Linked DNA regions of Homo sapiens: all the other regions are reported to be linked to region 5. The links are microRNA targets in miRTarBase. Many come from high-throughput screens and were not tested one by one. Region 5 holds a microRNA gene; each other region holds the end of a gene's coding sequence.

Region 1 (4,054 bases), not on the chromosome of region 5:
GGGCGACAGGGGAGTGGGGGAGGGCCAAAGTTCTGGGATCTAGAACCTACTAAAGTTTTCCACCCTAGCCCACCCTGCCTACCTGGCTTCCATAGTTTAGAGGATGCCCATTGGTACTGTGGTTTGAGCAGAATGACAGAAAAGCTACAGGACAGGTCCTAAATAAATATGGATTCTTTCAGACTTTGTAGTGAATCTGCATTGTTATTATTTAGAGAAGCATTAAGGCATAATGATTAAGAACATGGATTCTGGAGCTTGACTTCTTGGGTTTAACGCTCAGCTCAGCCTTTTTTTACTACTTGGGCAGTTACTTAAATTATCTGTGCCACAATTTCCTTATATGTAAAGTAGTTATTATAATAATATCTACCTCATAGGATTATTGGGAGGATTAAATGAATTAATACATGTAAGTGCTTAGAAAAATACTTGACATATAGCTCTCACTCAATGTTAGTAATAATGATAATATTATTTTTTAGAAACAGGGTCTTGCTATGTTGCCCAGGCTGGAGTGTAGTGGTGTGATCATGGCTCGCTGCAGCCTCTACTTCCTGGGCTGAAGCAGTCCTCCTGCCTCAGCCTACCAAAGTACTGAGATTACAGGCAGTAGCCACCACGCCTGGCCGAATAATATTATTTTAAATTAGCATAGGTTATGATGTGGCTTTCCTTTTAAAATTTATTTTATTTTATTTTTTTAATTTTTAAATTTATTTATGTGGCTTTCCTTAAAAACCAATACGAAGAGTAAGATTCCATTCTGTGAGTTAAACTTTTTGGATTGCTTATACTATGAATAAAAAAGATGTAACGGCAGTTTAAAGAAATAGGATTTGCTGTCCGATCAGCAGGATTAGATTATAGCTTGATGAATTCTAATCTATTTAGTATTATATAAATTGGATTGTAGCTTGATGAAACATAGAAAACGGATTTCTAGTCACATAGAAAATCGATGCTATGACAGGAGCTGGTCATAGAGGTTTGTGTTGTCTCTTGTTGCCTAGACCCTCCCAAACATTGTCCAGGAATGAGATGCCTTTGTGCATACCCCATCCACCACTTCATTCTAAGCAGATGTCAGTCACCACTACTAAAGCAGAATCTGATAGCACTAAACATTTGAGTCACATAATGGACTCCTCTAATCCATAAGGCAACCTTATGATAATTTGGCTTGCTATGTAGCTTATCTACATGGAGAGGCTATGTAACCTGGATGACTTGAATATATGCTTGCATATCCAGTTATAAGTCTTACTAGAAATCAGTACATTAGTTTTTTGTCTTTACATGTCAATCTCAAGAGGTTTGTTAATCCAAACCTGCTTCTGATGAGTAAATCCATTCTCCCTGTACTTACTAAGTAGGTAGTTGAGCATATAAAGCTAAGACCCCCAAACCCTGGACCTTGGTAGATTCACCAAGATAATGTGTCCGTCTCTTCAGTCTCATTGTTTTCTTGGGATATATCCCAGTGCCTTTTCCAGATCATCATATTACTAGCTACCTTAATTTACTTCTATTTTCTTTATTTCCATTAGTTCTATATGTGTGGTGGCAGAGATATTCTTCCATATCACCATTGCCAGTTGGCTGAAGAGGGGTGGAGCAACCCAATTTCTCTCTCTCAATCCCCGGCCAGCCTGATATGACCAAGAATCACTGCGTAGTGAGCAAGGAAAGCTAATCACTGCACTGCAGGATCTCACTTTGTGGAACTATTGCTTTGCTATATGCCTTCTTATAGCAGACGGAGCTGAAAGGAACCTTAAAGATGAACTAGCCCACATTTCTTGTTTTACAGATGAGGAAACAGATTACTTGCCTTGGACAGTATATCTTTATGCTCTTCTAACAGTCTTTTGTCTAAGGTTGGCCTGGACTTACGACCTGTGAGTAATCTTCTTTGTAGCCCTAGTCTTATCGAACCAGTACAAAAGTTTAACTGCCAAAGGCACTTTCTTTCCTATAGTTCTGACAACTTCTCCTTTTGTTATATACCACTGATATCCAGGTTCAGTTCATCATCTATTTCAGACCATGTTTCTAATTGGATTCTCTGTAGCCTGGTTCATGTTGTAGTCTGCCATTTTCTGGCAACAAATTGGATCTATTTTAATAATGATCAGAGATGCTGGATTTGTCATGTTGGGATCTTTTTAACTCAGTATCCCAAATTGTGGACATAGGATTTCATGAAATAAAAATAAACCTCAACAGTACTTCTTTAAATAATACTCACTATATACCCAGAATAAAACTATATTCCAGTAATTCCATTAAAATTTGTATGCTAACAATAAAACTTTGTTTTAAAATTTTTATTCATGTTTATTTTAACCACAATACTAATTGCTATTCCTAAAATATGTTTTTCTTTCTCCTCCTCCCTTATGGAGTATTAAATGTTTTAATGTCATGGCAAACTCTTTTATTAGCTTAGGATTACTTTATATATATATATAAAGAAAAAAATTAATAGCAAGTTACGAGAAAATGTACATTTTTCTTGTAATGTATCTTTACATATTTCAAAGAGGCAAGTGGCAGCAAATGTGAAATAAGCATAAGCAAAGTGCTTTCATTTAAGTGCTTAGAGGATTAATCAAGGAGCACTTCCTAGAAGTGTGTTTTGAAGATTTTAAGAGAAGGTACAAATATTCACTGGTGACGAGGATGGAGTCAGAAAGAGGGAAGTAAAACACACATTATGCATTGGGAGCTGCATTAGAAAGGGGAATGGATGCTAACAAAAAGAAAAAACATCTCTTGCAGGATGGTGAAGCAGGCTTTCAGCTGGGATGGAGAAGGGATGCTGAGTTACAATCATTGGTGAAGTTATTGAGATGTCATTTCAGCCTTGCTACTCACATTTTGCTGGGTAATGTGCTAGATCCTAAGGGAAAAGCTAAAGAGAAGGGAGAGACAGTGCTTGACCTGTAGGTACTTATGATCTTGCTGATGAGACAAGGCAACAGGAAGTTAAAGGAGGATCCTTGAAAGCCAGTAAGAGGAACTTGGATTTTATACAGTATGTGATGACAGGAGCCATTGGAGGTTCTCATGTATCATCTTACCTCTATCATCTGCTCAGAAGGGAGAGGTCTGAGCTGGGGAAGATCAAACTGAGCAGGTGGCTAGGTTTTAATCTTTATAGCTATATGTAATCAGCAGAAGAGCTTTTTCCCACACAAAACTATTTTGAATCACTTTAGAAAAAAATGAGCTGCCTAAAATCTTCTGTCCATGATTAACAATTAATAGAAAATCACTGGTTTGCTCCTGCAAACAGCACTTAATGTCAGTAGCTTCAGGCTGTTTTTCAATTTTACAGTAAATTTTTTACCGAAACAAATTTAGGTAGCTATTTTGTCCATGGGCTTTTGTAGTGGAAAGATGATGTGAGTAAAATAGAATAATGAGATTCCTTTTCTGCATCAAAATATTAGCAAGCTGCTAATGGTTCCATTTTGATACTGCCACTTTCAAAATAAAGGAGAGAGATCAAGTTGCTTATGGAAACATTTTGGATTATGTTTAAAATAGTGTAACTTTATAATAGTTGATATGGTAAATAATTCAAGGTTTGCTTTTAGTGCATCAGTTTATCTCCATCTTGGCTCAGCCCTGAGAGAGAAAGTTTCCAGATTTTTATTGCCTATCTAATAAGTCCCTTGGTAATTGGTTTCATGCTGTAGGAATGTAGATTTTATTTCTTCCCTTTCTTCTTCTTCTTTTCATCTGCCTCCTTGCTACTTGCAAACTGTTCTGTGATTTCCACTATCTCCACTGACCTTCCAGTGGGAAGCCTTCCAAGGTCCTTGGTTTCCTGGAATGACATTTGAGGCATATTTAAGTGCCTTACGATATTCCTGGGTTTATTTGGGTTTTGGCCCATATGCATTGGTGGTAAGTCCCTGAGAGGCACTAGCACAAAAACAACAGGAGCCCTGAGGTCTGGAGGTAGGTTGGGTTGGAGTTGTCCACTCGGCATTTGAAAAAACTGTCCAGGAAAGGCATTGTTTAAGGGGTAGCTCTCTAAAGC
Region 2 (4,065 bases), not on the chromosome of region 5:
CACCTCTATGTCTCAGTCATAGGGCTAAGCTCTGTTTATGCATTATCTCATCCTCATGAAAACCTTTGAGGGAGGTACTATTATTAAGCCCATTTTACATGTTAGAAAACTGAGGTTAGAGAGGATAAGTTACTTAAGGTCACGCAATTCGTAAGTTGTACAATTAGGACTCAAATTTGGGTCTGTTTGATCTTAAAGTTCATGCTCTTAAATACTTCATCACACTAGCTCCTCTGGGGGCTTTGGGTGTCCTGGGATTTGGAGGTGGCGGCGCTTCAGGGTCAGTCACTGGATTGCTTTTCGGCTTTGCTAAAGTCCTGTCTGTGGAGGAGAGTAAAGTCAGGATGGTTCCACGCATGCCACGGGTAGTGGGGTGATGGGGGAGGCCCCTTTCCCAGCCCTGGTGCTCAGTGGCTCTGCTTCCTTTCCAGAGCCCCCTGAGCGGGACTCCACGGTGGCCGTGATTGTGGGTGCCTCCGTCGGGGGCTTCCTGGCTGTGGTCATCTTGGTGCTGATGGTGGTCAAGTGTGTGAGGAGAAAAAAAGAGCAGAAGCTGAGCACAGATGACCTGAAGACCGAGGAGGAGGGCAAGACGGACGGTGAAGGCAACCCGGATGATGGCGCCAAGTAGTGGGTGGCCGGCCCTGCAGCCTCCCGTGTCCCGTCTCCTCCCCTCTCCGCCCTGTACAGTGACCCTGCCTGCTCGCTCTTGGTGTGCTTCCCGTGACCTAGGACCCCAGGGCCCACCTGGGGCCTCCTGAACCCCCGACTTCGTATCTCCCACCCTGCACCAAGAGTGACCCACTCTCTTCCATCCGAGAAACCTGCCATGCTCTGGGACGTGTGGGCCCTGGGGAGAGGAGAGAAAGGGCTCCCACCTGCCAGTCCCTGGGGGGAGGCAGGAGGCACATGTGAGGGTCCCCAGAGAGAAGGGAGTGGGTGGGCAGGGGTAGAGGAGGGGGCCGCTGTCCACCTGCCCAGTGCTTGGCCTGGCAGTGGCTTCAGAGAGGACCTGGTGGGGAGGGAGGGCTTTCCTGTGCTGACAGCGCTCCCTCAGGAGGGCCTTGGCCTGGCACGGCTGTGCTCCTCCCCTGCTCCCAGCCCAGAGCAGCCATCAGGCTGGAGGTGACGATGAGTTCCTGAAACTTGGAGGGGCATGTTAAAGGGATGACTGTGCATTCCAGGGCACTGACGGAAAGCCAGGGCTGCAGGCAAAGCTGGACATGTGCCCTGGCCCAGGAGGCCATGTTGGGCCCTCGTTTCCATTGCTAGTGGCCTCCTTGGGGCTCCCGTTGGCTCCTAATCCCTTAGGACTGTGGATGAGGCCAGACTGGAAGAGCAGCTCCAGGTAGGGGGCCATGTTTCCCAGCGGGGACCCACCAACAGAGGCCAGTTTCAAAGTCAGCTGAGGGGCTGAGGGGTGGGGCTCCATGGTGAATGCAGGTTGCTGCAGGCTCTGCCTTCTCCATGGGGTAACCACCCTCGCCTGGGCAGGGGCAGCCAAGGCTGGGAAATGAGGAGGCCATGCACAGGGTGGGGCAGCTTTCTTTGGGGCTTCAGTGAGAACTCTCCCAGTTGCCCTTGGTGGGGTTTCCACCTGGCTTTTGGCTACAGAGAGGGAAGGGAAAGCCTGAGGCCGGCATAAGGGGAGGCCTTGGAACCTGAGCTGCCAATGCCAGCCCTGTCCCATCTGCAGCCACACTACTCGCTCCTCTCCCAACAACTCCCTTCGTGGGGACAAAAGTGACAATTGTAGGCCAGGCACAGTGGCTCACGCCTGTAATCCCAGCACTTTGGGAGGCCAAGGCGGGTGGATTACCTCCATCTGTTTAGTAGAAATGGGCAAAACCCCATCTCTACTAAAAATACAAGAATTAGCTGGGCGTGGTGGCGTGTGCCTGTAATCCCAGCTATTTGGGAGGCTGAGGCAGGAGAATCGCTTGAGCCCGGGAAGCAGAGGTTGCAGTGAACTGAGATAGTGATAGTGCCACTGCAATTCAGCCTGGGTGACATAGAGAGACTCCATCTCAAAAAAAAAAAAAAAAAAAAAAAAAGGCAATTGTGCGGAGCCAACCATCACTGCCATTACACTCACATTCAATGGAAATTGATTAGGCCTGAGAGAAGGAGCAAGAGGCAGAAACACTGACTCTGAGACCATGACCTTGGAAGATCCTCAGAGATCAACTAGCCAAGTCACTCACTTAAAATGGGGAAACTGAGGTTCCAACTGACAGAAACTGAGGGTCCTGCCCTCTTCTCTGGCTCCTCAGTCTCCAGTTTGAAGCAACAGAGCCATCATTTTCCCAGTGGGAGGGGCCTCTGTGTCCTGGTCTATGATGGGGCGAGTTGGAGGGGTGGGCTTCTCTAGCCCTGCCCCCTCCCAGGAGCCCAGCCCCTCTGGCCAGGACTGAGGAGGAGTGGAGGGAAGCAGGGAGGGAGGGAGCAAGTGTGAAGGGCACAGCTGCTGGCAAATGCCCCATTCCCTGCCCCAGCACTTCCCAGCCTTTCCAGGAGCTCTGCCCCACCCCTACTCAAGGAGTCAGGTGCCCAGGGTAGGGAATAAGTCTAGGAAAGGGGGTGGAGACAGGACCGTGACAGTCTCAGGGACCAATCCCTGCCTCTGCCCATCAGATTGCCAATTTGGGGAGACAGCAATATCATCTGGGAGATTCAGCTTAATTTGCTTCAATTCAGCAACCATTTATTGAGCATCTATTATGTGCCAGGCACTGTGCCGGGCACTGGGGATATACACAAAGCCATAAGCACTGGGGACTGCCAGGTTGGCACTGTAGGGACCAAGATTAACTTTTTGGTGCATCTAATTCCACCTCTGCAAGACACTGCTTCCAAGGCTACAGTTGGGGAAGATGAAGAGATTCTAGAATCTGTGCCCTGGGAAGGGAGAAACAGCAGGGAAGAGGGGCAATACAACAGGGTCAAGGGTGCAGAGGCCAGGCAGAGTGGGTGCAGAGTGGGGGATGGGCAACCAGCCTGGTAACACCTGGGTGAGGTGAGCGAGTCAAGCCCATCTGGAAATGCTAAACTCATCAGCTCAGTACCTAACTGCCAATCAACACACTGCCAATGCGGGTGGGCTAAGCCGCCAGGATGCCTGCAGCAGATGGACGCTGCCCATCCTTGAGCCAGCCAGCTGGGGGCAGAGAGGTGGGTGGCGGGCACCTCATGCCAGCTGAGACCAAGAGTGGTTGTATACATTTCTGCAGCTTGCAGATTTCATTTTTTTGGTCACCCTTTAAGTGTCCTTCTCTCCCAGGATGAGTGAGGAGCTGTGCTGATGTTGGGAACTTATCTTTTTCCAGGATCCATAACATTTAGGGGAATTATTTGCGGGCTTTCCTAGTGTATTCTAAGAAGTTCTAACTCTCCATCAAGAAGCCCAAGATTCCTGGAGTCTTTTTTTCCTCTGCCCTGATCAACTGGGGCCCAGGAAAAGCAATGTCTCTTCACGGGCCTCAGGGCCCCAGCAGATGGGGCTGGGTCAGGAACCATCTCTGTCCCAGGTGCTCAGCCCTCATATGCATTTTCTTCTGGAGCCTCTTAGAATCTCCTCCAGAGGACTCATAGAGCTGCCTCCCCCAGGATGGTGAAGTTGGGAGCAAAATGGGGCTTCTGTAAGTAGAGGTGGAAAACCAGAGAGATGTTTCCACAGCAGCCATTTCCCTACCCTGTTTCCTAACTTATGCTGACAAGTTCTTCCTCTTCCTACCGTGGGGTTCGAGCCCCACTTCTGGTTGCATGTTCCCACCACCACGCTCTGCTGGTTTTAGTCGGCTGACTTTCTCAACTGCCCCAGCCTCTCCTGCTCTCTCAGAACCTCCCTCTGCCCCCACCCCCCATCTGTCTCTTCCTCCTAATTAAGGGCCACTGCAAAGAGAGACGGGCTGGCTAACCCATGGGATTTAGCTTATAAGAACAAAGCACAATTATTCAGGACTGAACTGCTTTGAGGTGCCTTGGAACTGGCTTTGGAAATAGCTATCTGCCCCCTAGCTATGGACTCTTCACAGTTATTTCCAGTTTATAAAAAGGAAAAGCTGA
Region 3 (4,065 bases), not on the chromosome of region 5:
AGCCCCCAGGCATACACACAGATGCAGGTCCAGGCACGGTCTTGTCTGCACAGCCTGGTGGGCACCAGCATGCATCCCTGGAGACAGGCCCTCAGGCACCAGCCCGGCTGTTTACTCACTGAAGAGCTGCTTGGGTGTCTGCTACGTGCTGGGCCCTAGAGATAGAGCAGTGGCCAAGACGTACCTTAGTACCCAGGTCCTTGGGGTGAGCAGAAACCTTCACCCTCCCCAGTCCCATGGGCTCCTCACAGCAACCCCACAAGGGCAGTGCCGGGATGCTGAACGTTCACACAAGGACAGGGAGGGTCTGAGTTTAGGTCTCAGGTTCTTCCAGTGCGCCCAGGGCTGGGGGCCACCTACACAGATGGTGAGGTCGGACCATGGCGCCCCTGCCCCCGGGAATGGGCCCCAGGCAGGGCTGCTGTGAGGGCCAAGGTCTGGCCACGCTGGCCAGTACCCATGTCCGGGCCTGAATGCACAGCCCCTGCCCCCGACCCCACAGCTCACTCCACTAACCAGCTCTCTCTCTTTTGACTTTCAGACCAGTTGTTAAATTGCCCGCCTCCGCCAAGGGCCCCCTGGGTGTGTAATGTCCAGTCCCCAGCCAGGCTCTGTCCCCTGCCATACCTAGACTGTGTGTTTCATATTTTTTTGGAAAGAGAAGTGAACATCCAGCCCCAATCATGGTATCATTCGGTCTGTCCTCAGCGTGGCTTGGACGGGGCCTGTGTCAGAGTGGTCAGTGCTGACCCCTGGGGCTCTTGGGCAGAAAGATGAGGAGACAGAGGTCCAGGGTGGGTTACATAGCACATCCAGGGCTAAGCAAGAAATAATTCAGAGGTCCTACCCTCTGTCTAGGGACCCCCCTCCCAAGCCTGGCCTTGGCCTTGGCACAAAGTCCTCCTTGATAGGAGATCCCACTCACTCCTGGAGGCTGCCCCTGAGGCTTGGCCCAGCTCTAGGAGCAGTCCCCAGGGTCAGGGAGCCCCTGGTGTGGAAAGAGGCCCCAAGGTAGTAAACCCTGCCCCTGTTACTGTGCTCCAGAGACCTCCTAAGGGAAGGGACAGTTCCTGGAAGGCCCTCCAGCTGGATGCTGGGGATCAGCGATAGGTGAGGGGACACAGTGTAGGAGCTCCCCATGTAGAAAAGGGAATGTGGGGAGGGCGTTAGGAGCTTGCAGGCATTAGGACTGTCCTGAGCAAGGTCTGCAGCCCCCAGCTCTGCTCACCCCGAATCCTGCCCCTTGTTTCCACACCTACCATTCCTCCTCTCCTGATCCCCAGCATCCAGCTGAGGTCCAAGGTCTTTGTCCTAGAATCAGAGTGGGGAGGGGACAGCCTGGGGCTGCCCAGAGACTGTGGGTGGAGCTGCCTGCTGCACTCAGCAGTGCGGTCAGAGAAGGGCTTTTGGTCTTGAAGTCCAGGTACCATCCCCCCTTAGCATACAGGGGGAAGGGCCTGAGAGGAATGTAAGGAAACCAGCCCAGATCAGTCCCAAGGCCAGAGTCCTTTGTCCTACATCTCCCTGAACCAGAGTGTGCCCTGCCCCTCATGCTCAGACCTCTCCCACCCCAAACCCTCTCCCGGGACTCAGTCTCCCTGGCCACTGCGTATCAGGCTTCTGGGGAAAGCATCCATCACAGAACCTCCCCTTCCCTGCCACGCACCTTCCTTGGCCAGCTCCATTCTGGCCTCCTCCACCACCTGCCTTGTGACCACATCTCCCACCACGTCCCCAGATCTCAAGAACGCAGCTCAGCTTCTCCTTCGAGCTTGACTCTGAGAGGGAAAGTGACGGAAACCAAGTCAGATGAGATGACTGCCATGTACACTGCAGTCAAGGGCAGGGAGGGGAGGAATGACACAAATGGCAGGGAGCTGCTGGGGGACTGACCCCTCGGCGCCTGGCCTGGCCGGTGCTGCACATCCACCGGGGCACAACAGGGACTTGTCCAGCCTCTGGTCAGAGGATGTGGCCACCTGACCCTAAATAGGTTCCCCAGAGTCCTGCCCCTCTAATGAATGAGAACTGCAGGAGTTTCTCCTCTGGGTGCCTGAAGCTATAGTGCAATGGTTCCCAACCCTGCATGCACATTCGAATCACCTGGGGGCACAATGCCTAGGCTCCAACCCCAGACACTCTTATTTCATTGGTCTGGGTGGACCTGGCATCAGAAGTCATGTAGCTCCTCAGGGGACTGTAGTGTGTGGTCAGCACTGAGGGCTCCTCTATGAGGCCTCAAGCCCAGGTGACTCTGTGAGGTCTGCAGAGGGAGAAAAGAACCCACAAGGGAAGAGGTGGAGGTCAGGCACGGTGGCTCACGCTTGTAATCCCAGCACTTTGGGAGGCCGAGGTGGGTAGATACCTGAAGTCAGGAGTTCGAGACTAGCCTGGCCAATATGGTAAAACCCCGTGTCTATTAAAAATACAAAAATTAGCTGGCTGTGGTGGTGGGCACCTGTAATCCCAGCTACTCGGGAGGCTGAGGCAGGAGAATCGCTTGAACTCGGGAGGTGGAGGTTGCAGTCAGCCAAGATCGTGCCACTGCACACCATCCTGGATGACAGAGCAAGACTCCATCACAAAAAAAAAAAAAAAAAAGAAAAGAAAAGAGGTGGGTAGCCGGGCGTGGCGGCTCATGCCTGTAATCCCAACACTTTGGGAGGCTGAGGTGGGTGGGTCACAAGGTCAGGAGTTCGAGACCAGCCTGGCCAACATGGTGAAACCCTGTCTCTATTTTTAAAAAATACAAAAATTAGCCGGCTGTGGTGGTGGGCACCTGTAATCCCAGCTACTCGGGAGGCTGAGGCAGGAGAATTGCTTGAACTCAGGAGGCGAAAGCTGCAGTGAGCCAAGATTGTGCCACTGCACTCCAGCCTGGGCAACAGAGCAAGACTCCATCTCAAAAAAGAAAGAAAGAAAAGAGGTGGGGAGAGGAAGCCCCACTCACTCCTGCCTTTCCCAATACCAGGCTGTTCTGTGACACGCCCACATCTTCCCAATCAATTCCCCTTTTGGCTGAAAAAACGTTGAGTTTGAATCCTGTCCCACACAGCCAGAAGAGCCCTACCTAACAGGATTTGGAACCTGGAAACTCAGCACAGCCTTGCGGAATCCTGTTATATGGTGCCAGTGGAGCAGGGGTGGGATCATCCTCCTATTCTAGGCTGGGTGTTGGGCAGTCCTTGCTATTTGGTCATGAAGCAGCTGGCCAGGAAACCACACGTCATTCTCTCTTGAGATTCAGGGTCCAATGGAGAATGCGAGGATAGAGTGTGCTGGCTACTTCTTGTGGGTTTCAGGGATAGGCTGCAAGACAGACAAGATACATGCAAGTGGCGGGGGGCGGCGGGAGCGCTGGAGGGGGTGCCTGATGGCAAAGTGGGAACAAGCTTCAGTCTGTTCCTTAGGGGAAGCCCTTTCTGCCTATAGCCAGGGATTAAAGATGCAGAGGGTCAGAGAACCACACGTCTCGCTGAATTAAACAACCAACTAACACACTGATTTAAAATGTAGTGAGATCCTGGCAATGAGAAGATATCTGGGAAAAAACCAGAGGAATTTGAAGCTAAAAGACTGAGATGCCTGTTCCCACAGGCTTCTCCTGAAGCAAACCCACTCATATATCTACAACAAGGCCACCTGGGCTGCCAACTGGAGGCAGGGCTGATAATCCGGGCGTCATGTCCAGGTTGTTGTTTACTGTCCTAGCCTTAAGGCTAAAGGACTGGGGAGAGACCCAGGAAGGTAGGGCTCAGACTCAAAAGGCATGATTCTAAGGCTTTTGCCTTATTCTAAAGCATTGTGTATTACTAAACAGAGTCGTCCTGTTCCCCGCCCCCCCCACCCCAGAAGGAAATTGGCAGGCCATAAAATATGATTGTAGGAGGAATACACCCATGTACTCAGCCCCAGGGCCAAGGAGCACAGAAACAGAAGATGTTCAGCAAAAAGGAGTGAACCTGAGCCCCTGGAGAAGCTGATCAGGAAAATATGCTATTGCTTGGGAAGAGGCTCAAAAACTGTGCAGCTGAGAATAGAGCGTATGGACTGACTACTAGATTA
Region 4 (4,065 bases), not on the chromosome of region 5:
GAGAATGAGGACTAATATATTTAAATATTTTTGCAGGGAGAAAGAACTGGCAAAAGTCACTATCAAGAAGGAAGATCTGGAGCTAATAGTGAGTGGTAGTGCCTAACTAGTGTATGCGGAGGGGAGGCTATTCTGCTTAATTTGGGTTGTTTCCTGAAACAAGCGGAGTCAGTATATTTGGTGGCACATTAATGCCTGGGAACCTATGTAACATGATTTTTTTCTGCAGATGACTGAGATGGAGATATCTCGAGCAGCAGCAGAACGCAGTTTGCGGGAACACATGGGCAACGTGGTAGAGGCGCTTATTGCCCTAACCAACTGATGCGTGCTTTCTCAAATATACCTACTGGATTAATTTATGGCAATAAAATTTTTTTTTGTCTTTTTCAGTTTTATCATCTTGGGTCAAGTAGAGTGTATACTATATCCTATGTTGTGGAGAATTTATATGTTGGAGACTAACTGAATTTAAGTGACCCATTAAAATCTAGCACACCTGTATGAAAAATCAGTGTAGAAGAATACCTCATGTGCAGATGCTAGGTGGCAGGCCAGTCTCATTCATCTGACTAGCTCTCAACAGTATTCAAGGTACATCTGGAGTCTCAGCAGAGTTACTGTACTCAAATGGCATGTGTCTCCAAGACAGCTTATGAATATCTAAAAGGCCAGCTACCTGCCTAGGAGCCACTATATATATAGATAGATGTAGGTTATGAACCCAGTTCATAGGCCACCTTGAGTTAGAATTTTGGTACCTACAACATGCTTGATTTTGAGTGATTAAAAAAAAATAATTTGGCTGGGTGCTGTGGCTCACACCTCTAATCCCAGCACTTTGGGAGGTCGAGGCAGGTAGATCACGAGGTCAGGAATTCAAGACCAGCCTGGCCAACATGTGAAACCCCGTCTCCACTGAAAATAGAAAAATTAGCTGGGCATGGTGGTGGGCGCCTATAATCCCAGCTATTCTGGAGGCTGAGGCAGGAATCGCTTGAAATTGGAAAGCAGAGGTTGCAGTGAGCTGAGATCACACTACTGTACTACTGTACTCCAGCCTGGGGGAAAGAGTGAAACTCCATCTCAAAAAAAAAAAAAAAAAAAAAAGCCCGGGCACAGTGGCTCACACCTGTAATCCCAGCACTTTGGGAGGCTGAGGCAGTCGGATCATGAGGTCAGGAGTTGAAGACAAGCCTGGCCAACATGGTGAAACCCTGTCTCTACTAAAAATACAAAAAAAATAAAATTAGCCAGGCGTGGTGGTGCATGCCTGTAGTCCCAGCTACTCAGGAGGCTGAAGCAGAAGAATTGCTTGAACCAGGGAGGCGGAAGTTGCAGTGAGCTGAGATTGTGCCACTGTACTCCAGCCTGGGTGACAGAGCGAGACTGTCTCAAAAACAAAACAACAAAAAAGAATTTAGGGGCCAGGCATGGTGGCTCATGCCTGTAATCCCAACACCTTGGGAAGCTGAGGCAAGACGATCACTTGAGCCCAGCAGTTTGAGACCAGCTTGGGCAACACAGTGAGATTTCGTCTCTACCGCGCTCCCCCCACCACCAAAAAAAGAATTTAGGTACCTGAGGGTTAGAACATGGTAAGACTAGAAGATATCAAAGGTTGGGCCAGGTGTGGTGACTCATGCCTGTAACCCCAGCACTTTGGGGAGGCTGGGCTGGGAGGACTGTGTCAGGTCAGGATTTCCAGACCAGCCTGGGCAACATAGCATGACCTTGTCTCTACTAAAATTAAAAAAAAAAAAAGCCAGGCATGGTGGCATGTGCCTGTCTGTGGTCCCAGATACTCTGGAGGCTGAGATGGATTTGCTTGAGCCTGGGAGGTTGAGGCTGCAGTGAGCTGAGATTGTGCTACTGCACTCCAGCCTGGGCGACAGAGCAAGACTGTCTCAAAACGAAAAAAACCTATGAAAGGTTTTGATTGGTATTCAAATTCTAAGCCATAATACATTCTACATGCCATTTCCTATCCTAGAGAGAAGGTAATTTTACTTTAAAGGTTAATCAGGGCCGGGCGTGGTGGCGCATGCCTATAATCCCAGCACTCTGGGAGGCCGAGGCAGGTGGATCACCTGGGATCAGGAGTTTGAGACGAGCCTGGCCAAAATGGTGAAACCCCATCTCTACTAAAAGTACAAAAAAAAATTAGCTGGGTGTGGTGGTGGACGCCTGTAATTCCAGCTACTAGGGAGGCTGAGGCAGGAGAATCTCTTGAACCCAGGAGGTTGCAGTGAGCAGAGATCGCGCCACTGCACTCCAGACTGGGCAACAAGAGTGAAACTCCATCTCAAAAAAAAAAAAAAAAAAAATCAGCTTGGACCAACTCACACATGTTGAACTAGTTTCCTCAACTATAAAACTGTGACGGCCCCAGCTAGGCACAGTGGCTCAACGCCTGTAATCTCAGCACTTTGGGAGGCTGAGGCGGGCGGATCGCGAAGTGAAGATCAAGACCATCCTGGCTAACATGGTGAAACCCCGTCTCTACTAAAAATACAAAAATTAGCCAGGCATGGTGGCAGGCGCCTGTAGTCCCAGCTACTCGGGAGGCTGAGGCACTCTAGCCTGGGCAACAGAGCCGTCTCTTTAAAACAAACAAACAAACAAAAAAAAAACCCTGCAACGGCCCCTGAGTCTGCTGTAAGGACACTCAAATGGCAATTACAGACATTTCTCCAAGAGTTTCAAGGCCTTACCCTCATTCTGACTCTAGGATAATTCTTAGATTGTATCCCACACAACAGTGACTTGTACCTGTGTTCATCTTTATGTATTTACCACCTCATAGTAATTATTTGCATTCATTTTTATCGTACGACACTAAACTATTTGATTCTTCCAGTGGGACATTTAAAGGATGTGAGAAGACCTTGGTCTTCTCAAAAACATCTGTATTTGGTCATGGAATAAATCCAGATGCTACCTAAAGCCAAGCTAGTACCTGAGCTTGTTTCTGAGATCAAAGGGAATTATCAAAATGTGAAACACCTTCTGCCTGACAATTGTTATCTTTTACTTTAATAGGCAATTAATACTTGTCAGCTTGGACATTTTATTTCCAGTATCATGCTAAAAATCTCCTTGTTGTGTGATTCTTTTATTTCTTGACATGCACACATATATGGATCAAAAAGTATGTACAACTAGAAAAACGGACTCCAAGCAAAAATGGAAAACATGTTTCCATGAGCTTAGATTTCCGGGTATATTACTCCTAAACCTAAGGTAGAAGTAATGCATTGTTCACTTACATGTCCACTTTTCTAACCCAAGCTAAGGGCTGGAAAAAGAAAGTCAGAACAGTCCCAAGTAAATATGGGAAACCATAGCAGTGATAAAACCTAAGATTTCTCAGAAATAGTTTTAAGTGGGAAGCCTCTAATCCTACCTGGACAGTGCTTTCCTGTGGGTTTCTCAGCATGAGTCCAAACCTCACAAAGCACCTTCAAAGTCTGGGCTACCCAGTATCACAAGTATAGCAGTAAGTCCAATATCTGGATACAGGGGCCAAGGAAACAATGAAAAAACCAAATCAAGGACCAGATGCTGAGACTCCCCTTGTGTTCCACAGTTGGAAGAATAAGCAGTTGGACCCTAGGTAGTTTTCCGCTTCTTGGCAGATGGCCGCTCAAATACATCTCGTACCCCAGCTGCCTTTTGTTTGAAGAACTTTGTGTTCTGGGCACTCTCTTGGCCCCAAGCTGAGTCAAAGGAGGTGGTATCTTGATCCACAAGGTGAGTGTATTTGGTGCGACCTGAGCGTCCAAAGTTCTTGACCTGAGGGAAGGATGGATGATGAGTTATACCACCAAACAAACCATGCCTCAGCTATCAATACATCACTTTTCTCTGTCATGTTATTAAGGTTCCCCATACCTGCATGACTTTAGGAAGAATGGTTTTATTGAAATGATCCTCCAGGGTAGGAGCGCTGAAATCTCTCTTGTATACTTCTTCATCCTCATCCTGTATAAAAAAAATCTTATCAATCTTGTGGCTTTATTTCCTATATATTCAAACCACAAATTTATTAAACTCTACAATAAG
Region 5 (4,065 bases):
CGAGGGACGAGCATCTGCCGTCGTGTCCCGGCTGCCCTGCAGTCGCCTCCAACACCCGCTGCTGCCCGCCCGCTGCCTGCCTGCCTGGCATCTCTCTCTCCCGGTGGGTCCCCACTCATCCTTCCACCCCTCAGTTCCTCCTCTTTGAGGAAAGGACCTCCCCGCTCTCTGCTGTGTCTGTGACTGGCCTGAGACCCGCCTGGGGCAGGAGGGGTGGTTGTGGAAGGAAAGAGCCCAGAGTTAGGAGGTGGAATGTGGGGTCCCACAGCTGCCCCCTCTCTAACTCCCTGCTTCCTCCTTTGCCCTCCTTGGTCCAGCTGTGCCAGGATGGGGGTGGGGGTAGCAGTGGGCACGCTCTGTCTGCAGGAAGCCACGCTAGACAGAAGGGGCCACTCCCTCTCTCTCTCCCTTGTCCCCGCACAGACACTGCCTTCCTCTCAGGGCTGTGCTGGGCTTTTTGCTGAGCAGTGTTGGGTGAGGCAGGTGGGCCTGCAGGGCGGGTGGGAAGGGCTGTCAGATGACCAGTGCTGTGTGTGTGTGGTTGGGGCCCCTGCTGCGAACACATCCCTGCCCACCATGCTGGCAACTGGGATCCCCTCCATCCCATCCCAGGCCCTGGGAACCCAGTGCTCTCCAGCAGGCAAGGGTGAAGGACCCATAGTCATTCCTGAAGAGCAGGGAGCTTGGAGAGGGGAGGGATCCTGGCTGAAGACACCTGGGCCTCTGCCCCAGCAGGACAACAGGAGGGCCAGTGTCACCTTCTCCTCCTTTCCCTGCTGGGGGTGGCAGGGGTCCCTTTACCCCCTCATTCTTGACCCTTCTCCAGGGATGCTTGTGACCTCCTTACCCCACCCCCCATCACCTCTCTGTCCTGAAGTGAGGGTTTGTCACCGTCCATGGCAAGGTGTGGTGTCTGGTAGGCTCTATGACCTGCCTTCTCTCAGGGTGTTTATTCTGCAGCAGAGAGGGGTCTGCGGTCTGAGTGTAATGGTGGAAATCCAGGCTTCCTTCCATGGCCCAAGGAGGCCTTTCCGGAGCAACAGGGTTTTCCTGGGACTCAGCCTGGCTTTTGTTAAGGCAGGTCCCGGATTTACTCAGAAGATGGGCCCCAGAGAGGAGGAGAGGAAAGGAATACCTGTCAGTCAAACGTGAAGCCCACTGATGACACTGCCTGGCAGAGCTGCCTCCGGTCAGCAGTGACCCTTCACCCCCCAGCTCCCAAGTCCTCTTCCTGAGGGAGCTGGTCCGGCTTTATGGAAGGCTCCGCCTGTGTTCCCCCACTGGGTCCCTGGTCCCTCACCTGTCACGTGGGGCGATGGTCACCCTCCCTCCCTGCCTGCCCTGAAGGATACACTGAGATGAAGGTCAGGAAATCTGCTGGCTGCAGAACCAGGGGCCATGCAGGAGTGAGGGATGGTCTGGTCAAGTTGAGGCTCTGCCCCAGCCTCAGTTTCCCCACACAGGCATGAGACTGTCTTCCTGACTTTCAGAGGACAGGGCTGAGATGGGATGAGGGAACACAGGGAAAGCGTTTAGCACCTCTGAGTGCTGTGTGGATGCGACCTGGGGGGTCCTGGCCTCCACTCTTTAATTCTATCTGGACTGTGTGCCCTCCTACCTCCAGTTTCCCTGCGGGGGCCTTTCACAGGGCCTGGCTTGCGGATACGGGGTTTGGCGTAGGGCAGTGCTTCTCAAATGGGAAGGCGCACTGGGATTCTTCAGGTTGGGGTGGGGCCTGAGGTTCTGCATTTCTAATCAGTTGCCTAGGACTGGCTCTAATTCTTGTTGAATTTACAATCACTTGTGGAGTTAAGAAAAACATACTGGGCCTTGGTTGGGTGTGGTGGCTCACACCTGTAATCCCAGCACTTTGGGAGGCCAAGGTGGGCAGATCATGAGGTCGAGAGATTGAGACCATCCTGGCCAACATGGTGAAACCTTGTCTCTACTAAAAAAAAAAAAAAAAAAAAATTAGCTGGGCATGGTGGCAGGCGCCTGTAATCCCAGCTACTTGGGAGGCTGAGGCAGGAGAATCACTTGAACCCGGGAGGTGGAGGTTGCAGTGAGCTGAGATTGCACCATTGCACTCCAGCCTGGGCAAAAAGAGCGAAACTCTGTCTCAAAAAAAAAAAAAAAAAGAAAAAAAGAAAAACATACTGAGCCAGGCGTGGTGACTCATTCCTGTAAGCCCAGCACTTTGGGAGGCCGAGGCGGGCAGATCACCTGAGGGCAGGAGTTCGAGACCAGCCTGGCCAACATGGTGAAACCCCATGTCTACTAAAAATACAAAAATTAACTGGGCATGGTGGCACGCACCTGTAATCCCAGCTACGTGGGAGCCTGAGGCAGGAGAATCACTTGAACTCAAGAGGCAGAGGTTGCAGTGAGCCGAGATCGCACCACTGCACTGCAGCCTGGGTGACAGAGTAAGACTCTGTCTCATAAAAACAAACAACAACAACAACAAAAAAACATACTGGAGCCTAGATCCCACCCCAGACTGGTTGATTCTGAATTTCTGGGGCTGAGGTACAAGCATAAAGTTCCCTGGGAGGTCTTCACAGAGTCTCTGGATCCCTGAGGCTGTGAATGACCCCCTTCCAGAGCCAAAATCACCAGGGATGGAGGAGGGGTCTTGGGTACTGGACCCACCAGCCAGGCAGGTTATACTGGGGTATCCGGAGAGCTTTGGGGTGTGGCAGGGGAGGGCCTATGCACTGGGAAGGTGGAGGGCCGACGGGCACAGGTTAGTGGTCGAGGGCAGCATAGTGACAGACAGAAGCTACCCTGTGGGTCTTCAGCCGAGTCTGAGTGCGCTGGGGTGGCTGTGGGAGCTCCCCTGAGCATTTTCTAGGCCACCTCCACCTTTGGATAAGGCTGTGTCATCCTCAGTCTCGGATGTAGTGGAAAGTGACTTGAAGTCAAGAAATCCTGCCACTAGTACCCAAGGGGCCTTAGGCAGATCACGCTATTAACCTCTCAGGACTCGGCTTTTGCATATGTACGATGTTGATAATCTTATGCACCCTTGATATCCCCAAGTGATGAGAGAATTAAATAAGAATACACACACACATCTCCCCTACCTAGCATAGTGACTGCTCAATAAATGTGAGTCAGAGGAAATCATTTAGCTATTAGGCCAGCACTGGGAGGTGTGGAGGATGCTCACCTCAGGTCAAGTGCACAAGTATTAACCGAGCAGCCACCACGGCCTCACAGTCAGGAGTTTATCATTTGCCTTTTGAATCCTAATGTCAGACCAGGTGGCATTCCTGCTTGGGATGACAAGCTCCTCTGTCATGGGTGGGCCTCCTCTGCCATGCCCCTTAACAGCGAAGGCGACACTCTAGGGCCTCCCCAGGTGCCGGCTCAGCTGTGAGGGCTCCTGTCATCGGACTTCATCCTCCCAACAACCCTCTGAGTAGATGCTATTATTCTCATTTTAGGGAGGAAACTGAGGCACAAAGCGATTCAGTGACAGGCCTGAGCTCGCCCAGCGAATGATGACAGGGTGTGGACTGGGACCTGTGGTTGGTCCCAGCCCAGCCTCTGACCACTCTGCTCTATTGCCCCTAGGCTGCAAGTGCAGCTGCAGGTTGGCCTGCTCCTGCCTCCTCTCCTTGCCTGGGCCTTTGGGCCTGCTCCACCTTCCCCTGGAGCGCTGTCCTCCCTCTGCCTGCTGGCGGTCTAGGCACTGCTGCAGCCCCACTGAGAGGTCCTCTTCCAGGACACACCTTGGGCACCTTGGTTGGAATTCTTTTCCCTATGACTTTCCCTCAGAGGAGGAGACACCTTCAGATGTGCTCTGCCTCCTTACTGAACAGCCTGGAGGACAGGCCAGTCTCCAGTTCCTATTGGGAGCCCCTGAGGCCATGCTCAGCCTCGGCTCACCTTCCCTGAGCCGAGTTGCTGTCAGAGTTCCAAGGAGGAAAAGACCAGGGAGGCTGGAGCGGGCAGGAGTGGCTTCCTGGAGGCAGAGGGTCTGAGCTCTGGGGGAGGAGGATGGCATTCCATGGCCTGTCCCAACAGGGGCTCTTGCCCCTCCCTGTTTCTGGTGCAAGC
Region 6 (4,055 bases), not on the chromosome of region 5:
GCTATTCTTTTTAAGGAGTGGCAAGATATGCCTGTTGACGATGTCATTGGTACTTTGAGTGGCTTCTTTACAATCATTGTGGGGATATTCTTGTTGCATGCCTTTAAAGACGTCAGCTTTAGTCTAGCAAGTCTGCCTGTGTCTTTTCGAAAAGACGAGAAAGCAATGAATGGCAATCTCTCTAATATGTATGAAGTTCTTAATAATAATGAAGAAAGCTTAACCTGTGGAATCGAACAACACACTGGTGAAAATGTCTCCCGAAGAAATGGAAATCTGACAGCTTTTTAAGAAAGGTGTAATTAAAGGTTAATCTGTGATTGTTATGAAGTGAATTTGAATATCATCAGAATGTGTCTGAAAAAACATTGTCCTCAAATAATGTTCTTTAAAGGCAATCTTTTTAAAGATTTCACTAATTTGGACCAAGAAATTACTTTTCTTGTATTTAAACAAACAATGGTAGCTCACTAAAATGACCTCAGCACATGACGATTTCTATTAACATTTTATTGTTGTAGAAGTATTTTACATTTTCATCCCTTCTCCAAAAGCCGAATGCACTAATGACAGTTTTAAGTCTATGAAAATGCTTTATTTTTTCATTGGTGATGAAAGTCTGAAATGTGCATTTGTCATCCCCACTCCATCAATCCCTGACCATGTAAGGCTTTTTTATTTTAAAAAAACAGAGTTATCCCAATACATTATCCTGTGATTTACCTTACCTACAAAAGTGGCTCCTGTTTGTTTGATGATGATTGGTTTTATTTTTGAAATATTTATTAAGGGAAAACTAAGTTACTGAATGAAGGAACCTCTTTCTTACAAAACAAAAAAAAGGGCAGAAATCACCCCAAGGAACGATTTCTCAGGTTGAGATGATCACCGTGAATCCGGCTTCCTCTGAGCATTCGATGGCCTTAGCACCTCATCAAGCCAGCACATCCTGCCTGCTGTTGCAGCCTGGCTGGGTTTATTCTTCAGTTACCCTAATCCCATGATGCCTGGAACCTTGATTACCGTTTTACATCAGCTCTTGTACTTTTCAGTATATTTTCATAATGAGTTATATTGTCATTTAGACTTTGAACAGCTCTGGGAAATAGAAGACTAGGGTTGTTTCTTAAATTTAGCTCATGTTATAATAAAAAGTTGAAATGAAGTTCTTATTCTAAAAGTCTGAATGCTTAGAACAAACTTAACATGTTTATAGAATATGGTCTCTTTGTACCAAGTACTTTGCTTAAGAGCTCCTTTGGGCCACTACATATTTTGGTTTCTAGAAAATGTTTGTTTATGAAGAAGTCGATGGAAAACTGCAAACATATGCAGAAAAGGTAGAATAATAAAAAAGGTCTAATGAACTCCATTCAGCTTTGAACCTATCCACTCATAACCATTGACTGGCCTTTAAAAAAAAGTATTGGCAGAATTAATTTCCACCTAGGTGATGGGAAGAAAGTGTTCGCCTGTTCCAGCCTGTGGCTCCTGCCTGGAGGTTACCCAGTGGTGCGCCAGCGCCAAGCCATCACTCCCCGAGGGCCTCCCCTGCCAATGGTGCTGGTATCCCATGCAGCTCACCACTGGCTGCGTGGAAACTCCCTTTTTTCCAACTTTATTATTGGCCTTCTAAGGAGCTGTTTTAGATGTTTTTTCTAACTGCCTCCTCCCATGCCATTTTAATACTACAGATGTACTACGTATCTGTTTATATACTGTACCTACATCTGTGCTTTGTACATAAAAGAACCAGTTTTCTCCCCCTTGAGGACAGAGACTCATTTGAACATGCATAGGTTAATAAATAATAAATTCTTATTTAACATTTTGTAGCACTTGAGATTGTCTTATACCTAAGGTATTACATATTTGGTATATAATTAAGCCTTATAAAACTTGGTAATTGATTAAGTTTTACCATAATTTTTCATCCTATTCTGTAGTTTCTAAGATAAGCACAGCTACCACCTCTAAATCTGCAGCAGAATGCTGGCCCCAGGGTTATTAATTCACATTACCAAAAGCATTTTTAGGGAACTTTTTATAAAGAAAGAATAATTGTTTGTTAGGCTTCATGTCACTTGAGTGAGTTTGGCAGTGTAACAGGATGGTTCGTACACTTACTACTTTTCTGTGCCGTGCATCATATGCTTCTGGACAGTTTCCAAAGGCCTCCGGAAAAGTAGGCGAGGCCTGCTTTTTATGGCAACTTGGCATCCATAGAAAATTTTAAAATTGGTGAAGGTTGCAATACTCCAAATAATGTAAAATGACTGCCAGGCTACAATATAAAGTGAGTTCAGTTAATCATGCTGGACTTGTGTTTATCTGTAGTATTCATCTACAATAAACAGGCATAGCATCTTTTTCCATTCAGTTAGTTAGGATTTTCAGAACCTCATTGCCTTAGTACTTTTTAAAATATGGCTTTAGTTTCTCAAACATGTTCGTGACTCTACTGGTAGTCTAGACCGATTGTTTTTCATTCTGACAGATCATGTGAACCAGCTCCAGCCATGTGAGCCCTGTGGATCGGGGACAGCTGAAGGCTGGACTCGGTGCTCCCGGTCCCTTTGTGCAGCACCCACTGGGCCTGACTGATCTCCTCCCACATTGCTGGCTTCCTCCAGGTCATGGGCACAGGTAACAGAGAGGCACTGAGTAGCCTCTTCATATCCAGATTGGAGCAGCCAACACGGCCGTTTTACACCTCATTTGCCTGCGGAACCCTAAATATAAAGCTAAACCTGTGCTGAGGTGAGCGGTATATGGGATGGTGTCACGGTCCCATCCCACCTCAGCCTTAGAGGTGACCTCCATCCCAGCTGGCCTGGTATGTGAGTTCAGGTTAGAGTTCCTTGCCAAGCCAGGCAGCACAGGGTTAGAGTAAATAAATGAACACAAATAGATCTCATTAGTTTTATTTCTATAACCTTTCGATCTGATGTCACGTTAGATTTTGTCACAACTGGATTTAGTGGAAGCAGGGGAATCAAGTTCACTATTTTCTGAAACACACAAAAAAGGGATGGGAACAATGACTTAGAACTAAGATTGCTCATAAAAGACCATCAGAAAGATCCCTAAACAAAAGCTAAATAGTTACAGTTAATGGTAACTGGCAAGGGATTTAATGCATTTGCTGGTATTAAGTTTCTTATGGAATGAATGAATGAACCCAGCAGCATTTTATGACACAGCTGCCAGAACATCCCATAGAAAAACAATTTTGTAGGAACGTGATGGCAACAATCAGCAGCCAATATTCTCAAGAGTTCCTAATTACCAAAAGCATATACAATTTTAGTCTAGAAAAATAAGTCAATTTTATAAAATTAAGTTTTTAGATCGAAAAGCACCCCCTTTAACAGGTACAGAGATACTGAAAAATAGTCCCTAAAAATCTCACTAAATAGTTTACGGAGAGAAAGGCATGCCATGTTGAGTTACGGAGTGCAGCGCGTGCCCTCAGCTGCTGGCGAGGGACTGGTGGATGGGCGGCTGGAAGCAGCGCACATGCTCCACTGGCGTGCCCTCCCCGTCGCCTGACTTCAGGTACTTATCCAGGATGGTGATGATCTCATCATTGAGAATCTGGAACTTGCGAATTCTCTCCACCATCTTCTTCAAAGGCTACAACCATCAAAGTGAGGATGTTTTACTATTAACACTTCAACATTTATTCTTCATGTTTCAAAATGTCAGGATTCTTATATTTTCTCAGAAAAATAATAGCAAACGGAATTGACACACATACTGTTCTTTTTGGGTTTTTTTTTGTAAGATAGGGTCTCACTCTGACGCCCAGGCTGGAGTGCAGTGGCATGATCACGGCTCACTGTAGCCTCAAGACATCCTCCCACCTCAGCCTCCTGAGTAGCTGGGACCACAGGCGTGTACCACCACACGCAGCTAATTTTTAAATTTAATTTTGTAAAGACAAGGTCTTATTATGCTGTCCAGGATGGTCTTGAACTCCTGAGCTCAAGCAATCCTCCTCTGCCTCAGCCTCCCAAACTGTTGGGATTACAGGTATGAGCCAGCACTCCCAG
Region 7 (4,065 bases), not on the chromosome of region 5:
CAAGTGAGCCTCCCTACTCCACCCCAGCTTAGGAAAGAGGAACCTAACCTGGAGGCTGCAGGGAAGGGAGCAGTCTAAACATAATCCAAGGCAGAAAATTGGAGGTGGAGCAGTGGCCCTGGGTCTTTGAGCCTGGCCATCTGGGGGTGCGGGAGGCCCTGAAAGCATTTTTCTCTCAGCCCATGGTCTTGTCTTTCACCATTTCATCCACTCAGTCTGAAGCTAGGGATGGGGATTTGGCACCAGATAGAGGTGGGAACTCAGGAATGTGTCTCATGAGAGGGCAGGAAAGGAATGGGGAAGTGTCCTCTTTGTGCCTTGTGGGGTTCCCTTGGCTTTTGTCAATTGCACCCCATCGCATTGTCCCTGGTAGCACCGTTAAGAGGTCTGTGGCCCAGACTGACCTTTTGCTTTGTCATCTTTTAGGATCAGCTCATCAGGAACTCAGGATCTGGTACCTGCCTGACATCCCAGGACAAAAAGCCAGCCATGGCCCCCTGCAATCCCAGTGACCCCCATCAGTTGTGGCTCTTTGTCTAGGACCCAGATCATCCCCAGAGAGAGCCCCCACAAGCTCCTCAGGAAACAGGATTGCTGATGTCTGGGAACCTGATCACCAGCTTCTCTGGAGGCCGTAAAGATGGATTTCTAAACCCACTGGGTGGCAAGGCAGGACCTTCCTAATCCTTGCAACAACATTGGGCCCATTTTCTTTCCTTCACACCGATGGAAGAGACCATTAGGACATATATTTAGCCTAGCGTTTTCCTGTTCTAGAAATAGAGGCTCCCAAAGTAGGGAAGGCAGCTGGGGGAGGGTTCAGGGCAGCAATGCTGAGTTCAAGAAAAGTACTTCAGGCTGGGCACAGTGGCTCATGCCTGAAATCCTAGCACTTTGGGAAGACAATGTGGGAGAATGGCTTGAGCCCAGGAGTTCAAGACCGGCCTGAGCAACATAGTGAGGATCCCATCTCTACGCCCACCCTCCCCCCGGCAAAAAAAAAAAGCTGGGTATGGTGGCTTATGCCTGTAGTCGCAGCTACTCAGAAGGCTGAGGTGGGAGGATTGCTTGTTCCCCGGAGGTTGAAGCTACAGTGAGCCTTGATTGTGTCACTGCACTCCAGCCTGGGCAACAGGTAAGACTCTGTCTCAAAAAAAAACAAAAAAGAAGAAGAAAAGTACTTCTACAGCCATGTCCTATTCCTTGATCATCCAAAGCACCTGCAGAGTCCAGTGAAATGATATATTCTGGCTGGGCACAGTGGCTCACACCTGTAATCCTAGCACTTTGGGAGGCCAAGGCAGGTGGATCACCTGAGGTCAGAAGTTTGAAACCAGCCTGGACTACATGGTGAAACTCCATCTCTACTAAAAGTACAAAAATTAGCTGGGCATGATGGCACGCACCTGCAGTCCCAGCTACTTGGGAGGCTGAGGCAGGAGAATCACTCGAACCCAGGAGGCAGAGGTTGCAGTGAGCCAAGACAGCACCATTGCACCCCAGCCTGAGCAACAAGAGCGAAACTCCATCTCAGGAAAAAAAAAAAAAAAAAAAGTATATTCTAACAGACAGATCAGAGGTCTAAGAGATCCTCCCTTGCTATTATTACCTGAAGTCTGTAGAACTGTTTACAGATATCTCCTTGACAGGTGTCCTTTATCTTACTTTATCTGTACAGTAATCCTGTGAGAAAGACAGGACAGAAACCACTGTGCCTATTTTACAGATACGAAAACTGAGACACAGGTAAAGGGGCTTGTCTGTAGTCCCATAGCTAGCAGATGGCTGGAGCCAAGACTGAGGCTCGTTCTTCAATGCTGAGCCAGGGCTCCTTCCGCTGCACCACAAGAACGCTAGACCACTCGCCACCAGCCTTCTCATTCCCTCTTCCTCCATTCTAATCATTTCTAGCTGGCTGGCCTCCACAGAGCATAGGAAAACAGCCAGGGCCGGGCACGGTGGCTCATGCCTGTAATCTCAACACTCTGGGAGGCCGAGCCGGGTGGATAACCTGAGGTCAGGAATTCGAGACCAGCCTGGCCAACATGGTAAAACCCCATCTCTACTAAAAATATAAAAATTAGCCAGGCATGGTGGCGCACACCTGTAATCCCAGCTACTCAAGAGGCTGAGGCAGGAGAATTGCTTAAATCTGGGAGGCGGAAGTTGCAGTGAGCCAAGATCGCGCCACTGAACTCCAGCCTAGGCAACAAGAGCAAAACTCCATCTCCAAAAAAAAGAAAGGAAAAACAGGGCCAGGTAGCCATTGTGGAGAGAGCACACTTAGGAATCCTGGGATGTTAGTGTTAAAAGAAAGCTCCTGGAGCCAGTGATTCTCAGGTTTGTCCCAGAACCCTTTTTTCTAAGCCCCATATAAAAGGTAGATTAAAAAAACAAAGTAGCATGAGTGAAATTGAGAGAGGGACAGGTAATGCCTTCCAGCCCCTAACTTCTAACAATCTGGAAGCACAACGTGAAAATCACGTAGCCCAACCCTATCATTTTCATATTATGAAACTGAGTCCAGGTAAGTGAATCTGTCCAAGGTCACCCAGCAAGGTATCAGTAGCCCTGAGGGTAAGGACTCTGATAAGGCTCGGGAGGGTCCTGGAAAGCCTGAGGCGGCAGGAAGAGTGTGCAGAGTTGAGCGTGTCTGGAAGGCTGATCCACTGCTGGGCCCACATCAAAGCCCCCATGGGGAGCAGACCCGACTGCACATGGCTCTTTTGCTGGAAGAAGAGCATGGCTGCGCAGAGGACTAAAATTTCATCTGGGAAGGCTTCTTTTGACTGTCAGTAGCAGGATGTCACCAGATGAGGGTGCTATGGGACCACAGCTGTCTTTGTTCCCATTGCAACTCAACCCTGCGGGAGGCCGCCTACATCCCTGAGAGCCTTCTGGAGCCTACAGAGGAGACATTGGCCAGCCAAAAGGAAAGGAGTGGCCAGGGTACGACCTGGAGTAGGGAAGGGAAAAAGTTCCCGGAAAGAAGAGAATTGGATGAGAGGTCTCAGTGGAAATAAAGGTTTTCTGGCATTGGTCAAGGAAACTCGCGTTGTGTTCTCTTACCTGTGTTGTCCCTTAGCTGAATCAGTTGATTTGGGCTATGAAGAACCACACACATCTGAAAAGTTCTGTTACAGCCACTGTCTCATGTCCCCAAACATTCTCTGGCCCTAAATCTAGCTTATGTATTGTGTCAAGCACGTGGAGACGTGAGACGTCAAACGAGGTCCTGTCCCCGTGGAACTCACACGCTAAATGTAAGCAAATCATAGCAAGCCTGGAGATGCTCCAAGAGGTGCTGGATGAGTTAGAAGGAGCAATTCCTTCCACTTAGGGAATCAGATAAGGCCTCACAAAGATGGCAATGTTTGACCTAAGACCTCGGAAGATGAGTCCTCAGATGGGAAGGGCTCAATAAGCAGAGTTGTTACACAGGCAGCAGCCTGGCAGGAGCAAAGCCACAGAGGACATGTGGCCCCAGTGGGTCTGAGAAACCCAGAGGACATTGGGGTGAGGGAGTGACTGGTGTAGAAGCTGGAAGATCAGAGTTACATCATGAATTTCAGGGGCCCTAGGCACTTTAGCCTTCACGGAGCTCTTGCTCCATTCAAAAAAAAATTAATGTTATGACTATGTTGGTATAAAGATGAATGTAATCCAGGCTGATTGGATTTACTTTATTTCTTCTGGTTTTAAAAGAAGCTAAAACATTTCTATGGGCCCTGGGCACTGCACCTGCTGTGCCTACTGGGTAACTCAGCCCCGTACAAGAGTGGGTTGGGGCCCAGTTGAGAGAGGCTTTGGTAGGTCCGGTAAGCCACAGGGAGTCGTGGAGCCTAACCCTAGCCTTATTCTTGGTTGCATTAAATATCCAAACGTGGATCCCAGTATCCCTCATACTGTCTATGGTATCACCCAACAGCTCCCCAGCCTAATCATATGATGTAGCCCAACCAAGGTGCCCAGCTGTGTCAAGAAGGTTCCACCTGCCCCCAAATAGCATAGCACTTCCCAGGCACAGTCAGCCAAGAGCTACTCGCAGGGAGTGGGAGATGCAGC

Evidence for each region. Region 5 holds the annotated microRNA hsa-miR-4534 (GGAUGGAGGAGGGGUCU, at 2,620-2,636, shown strand). A microRNA usually pairs through its seed, bases 2 to 8, with sites in the 3' UTR of a target mRNA and lowers its output. Matches are read on the target gene's strand: a 7mer-m8 pairs with bases 2 to 8, a 7mer-A1 pairs with bases 2 to 7 and ends in A, and an 8mer does both.
Region 1: the mRNA of APOBEC4 is a reported target of hsa-miR-4534. Seed matches in the 3' UTR shown: 7mer-m8 at 2,810-2,816 and 7mer-m8 at 2,685-2,691.
Region 2: the mRNA of SCN2B is a reported target of hsa-miR-4534. Seed matches in the 3' UTR shown: 7mer-m8 at 1,820-1,826, 7mer-m8 at 2,021-2,027 and 8mer at 3,390-3,397.
Region 3: the mRNA of CLDN19 is a reported target of hsa-miR-4534. Seed matches in the 3' UTR shown: 7mer-A1 at 1,633-1,639 and 8mer at 2,575-2,582.
Region 4: miRTarBase lists HYPK as a target of hsa-miR-4534. Seed matches in the 3' UTR shown: 7mer-m8 at 1,080-1,086 and 7mer-m8 at 2,299-2,305.
Region 6: miRTarBase lists NIPA2 as a target of hsa-miR-4534. Seed matches in the 3' UTR shown: 8mer at 645-652.
Region 7: miRTarBase lists GALNT6 as a target of hsa-miR-4534. Seed matches in the 3' UTR shown: 7mer-m8 at 1,357-1,363, 7mer-m8 at 1,524-1,530 and 7mer-m8 at 2,222-2,228.

What each region holds. Positions count from the first base shown.
Region 1 is chr1:183,643,960-183,648,013 of GRCh38, forward strand. APOBEC4 (apolipoprotein B mRNA editing enzyme catalytic polypeptide like 4) reads right to left here. Exons shown (of 2, transcript NM_203454.3): 2 at 2,316-4,054. The coding sequence ends at 3,719. It also overlaps a transcript of RGL1 not described here. Among named protein-coding and RNA genes, the nearest start is that of APOBEC4, 7.3 kb to the right of the region's middle. RefSeq lists a silencer at 1,795-2,089.
Region 2 is chr11:118,163,453-118,167,517 of GRCh38, reverse strand. SCN2B (sodium voltage-gated channel beta subunit 2) reads left to right here. Exons shown (of 4, transcript NM_004588.5): 4 at 432-4,065. The coding sequence ends at 631. Among named protein-coding and RNA genes, the nearest start is that of SCN2B, 11 kb to the left of the region's middle.
Region 3 is chr1:42,731,611-42,735,675 of GRCh38, reverse strand. It overlaps CLDN19 (claudin 19), which reads left to right. Exons shown (of 5, transcript NM_148960.3): 5 at 542-2,583. The coding sequence ends at 590. Among named protein-coding and RNA genes, the nearest start is that of CLDN19, 6.6 kb to the left of the region's middle.
Region 4 is chr15:43,801,482-43,805,546 of GRCh38, forward strand. It overlaps HYPK (huntingtin interacting protein K), which reads left to right. Exons shown (of 4, transcript NM_016400.4): 3 at 37-88; 4 at 230-2,946. The coding sequence ends at 325. It overlaps MFAP1 (microfibril associated protein 1), which reads right to left. Exons shown (of 9, transcript NM_005926.3): 8 at 3,895-3,984; 9 at 3,011-3,795. The coding sequence ends at 3,613. It overlaps SERF2-C15ORF63 (SERF2-C15orf63 readthrough), which reads left to right. Exons shown (of 6, transcript NR_037673.1): 5 at 37-88; 6 at 230-1,108. Among named protein-coding and RNA genes, the nearest start is that of HYPK, 2.9 kb to the left of the region's middle.
Region 5 is chr22:37,986,210-37,990,274 of GRCh38, forward strand. It overlaps MIR4534 (microRNA 4534), which reads left to right and starts at 2,585; the gene lies at 2,585-2,644. It also overlaps a transcript of POLR2F not described here. RefSeq lists an enhancer at 1-241.
Region 6 is chr15:22,866,557-22,870,611 of GRCh38, forward strand. NIPA2 (NIPA magnesium transporter 2) reads left to right here. Exons shown (of 8, transcript NM_030922.7): 8 at 1-1,828. The coding sequence ends at 291. CYFIP1 (cytoplasmic FMR1 interacting protein 1) reads right to left here. Exons shown (of 31, transcript NM_014608.6): 31 at 496-3,636. The coding sequence ends at 3,472. Among named protein-coding and RNA genes, the nearest start is that of NIPA2, 30 kb to the left of the region's middle.
Region 7 is chr12:51,350,854-51,354,918 of GRCh38, reverse strand. It overlaps GALNT6 (polypeptide N-acetylgalactosaminyltransferase 6), which reads left to right. Exons shown (of 12, transcript NM_007210.4): 12 at 427-3,667. The coding sequence ends at 540. Among named protein-coding and RNA genes, the nearest start is that of CELA1, 6.2 kb to the right of the region's middle.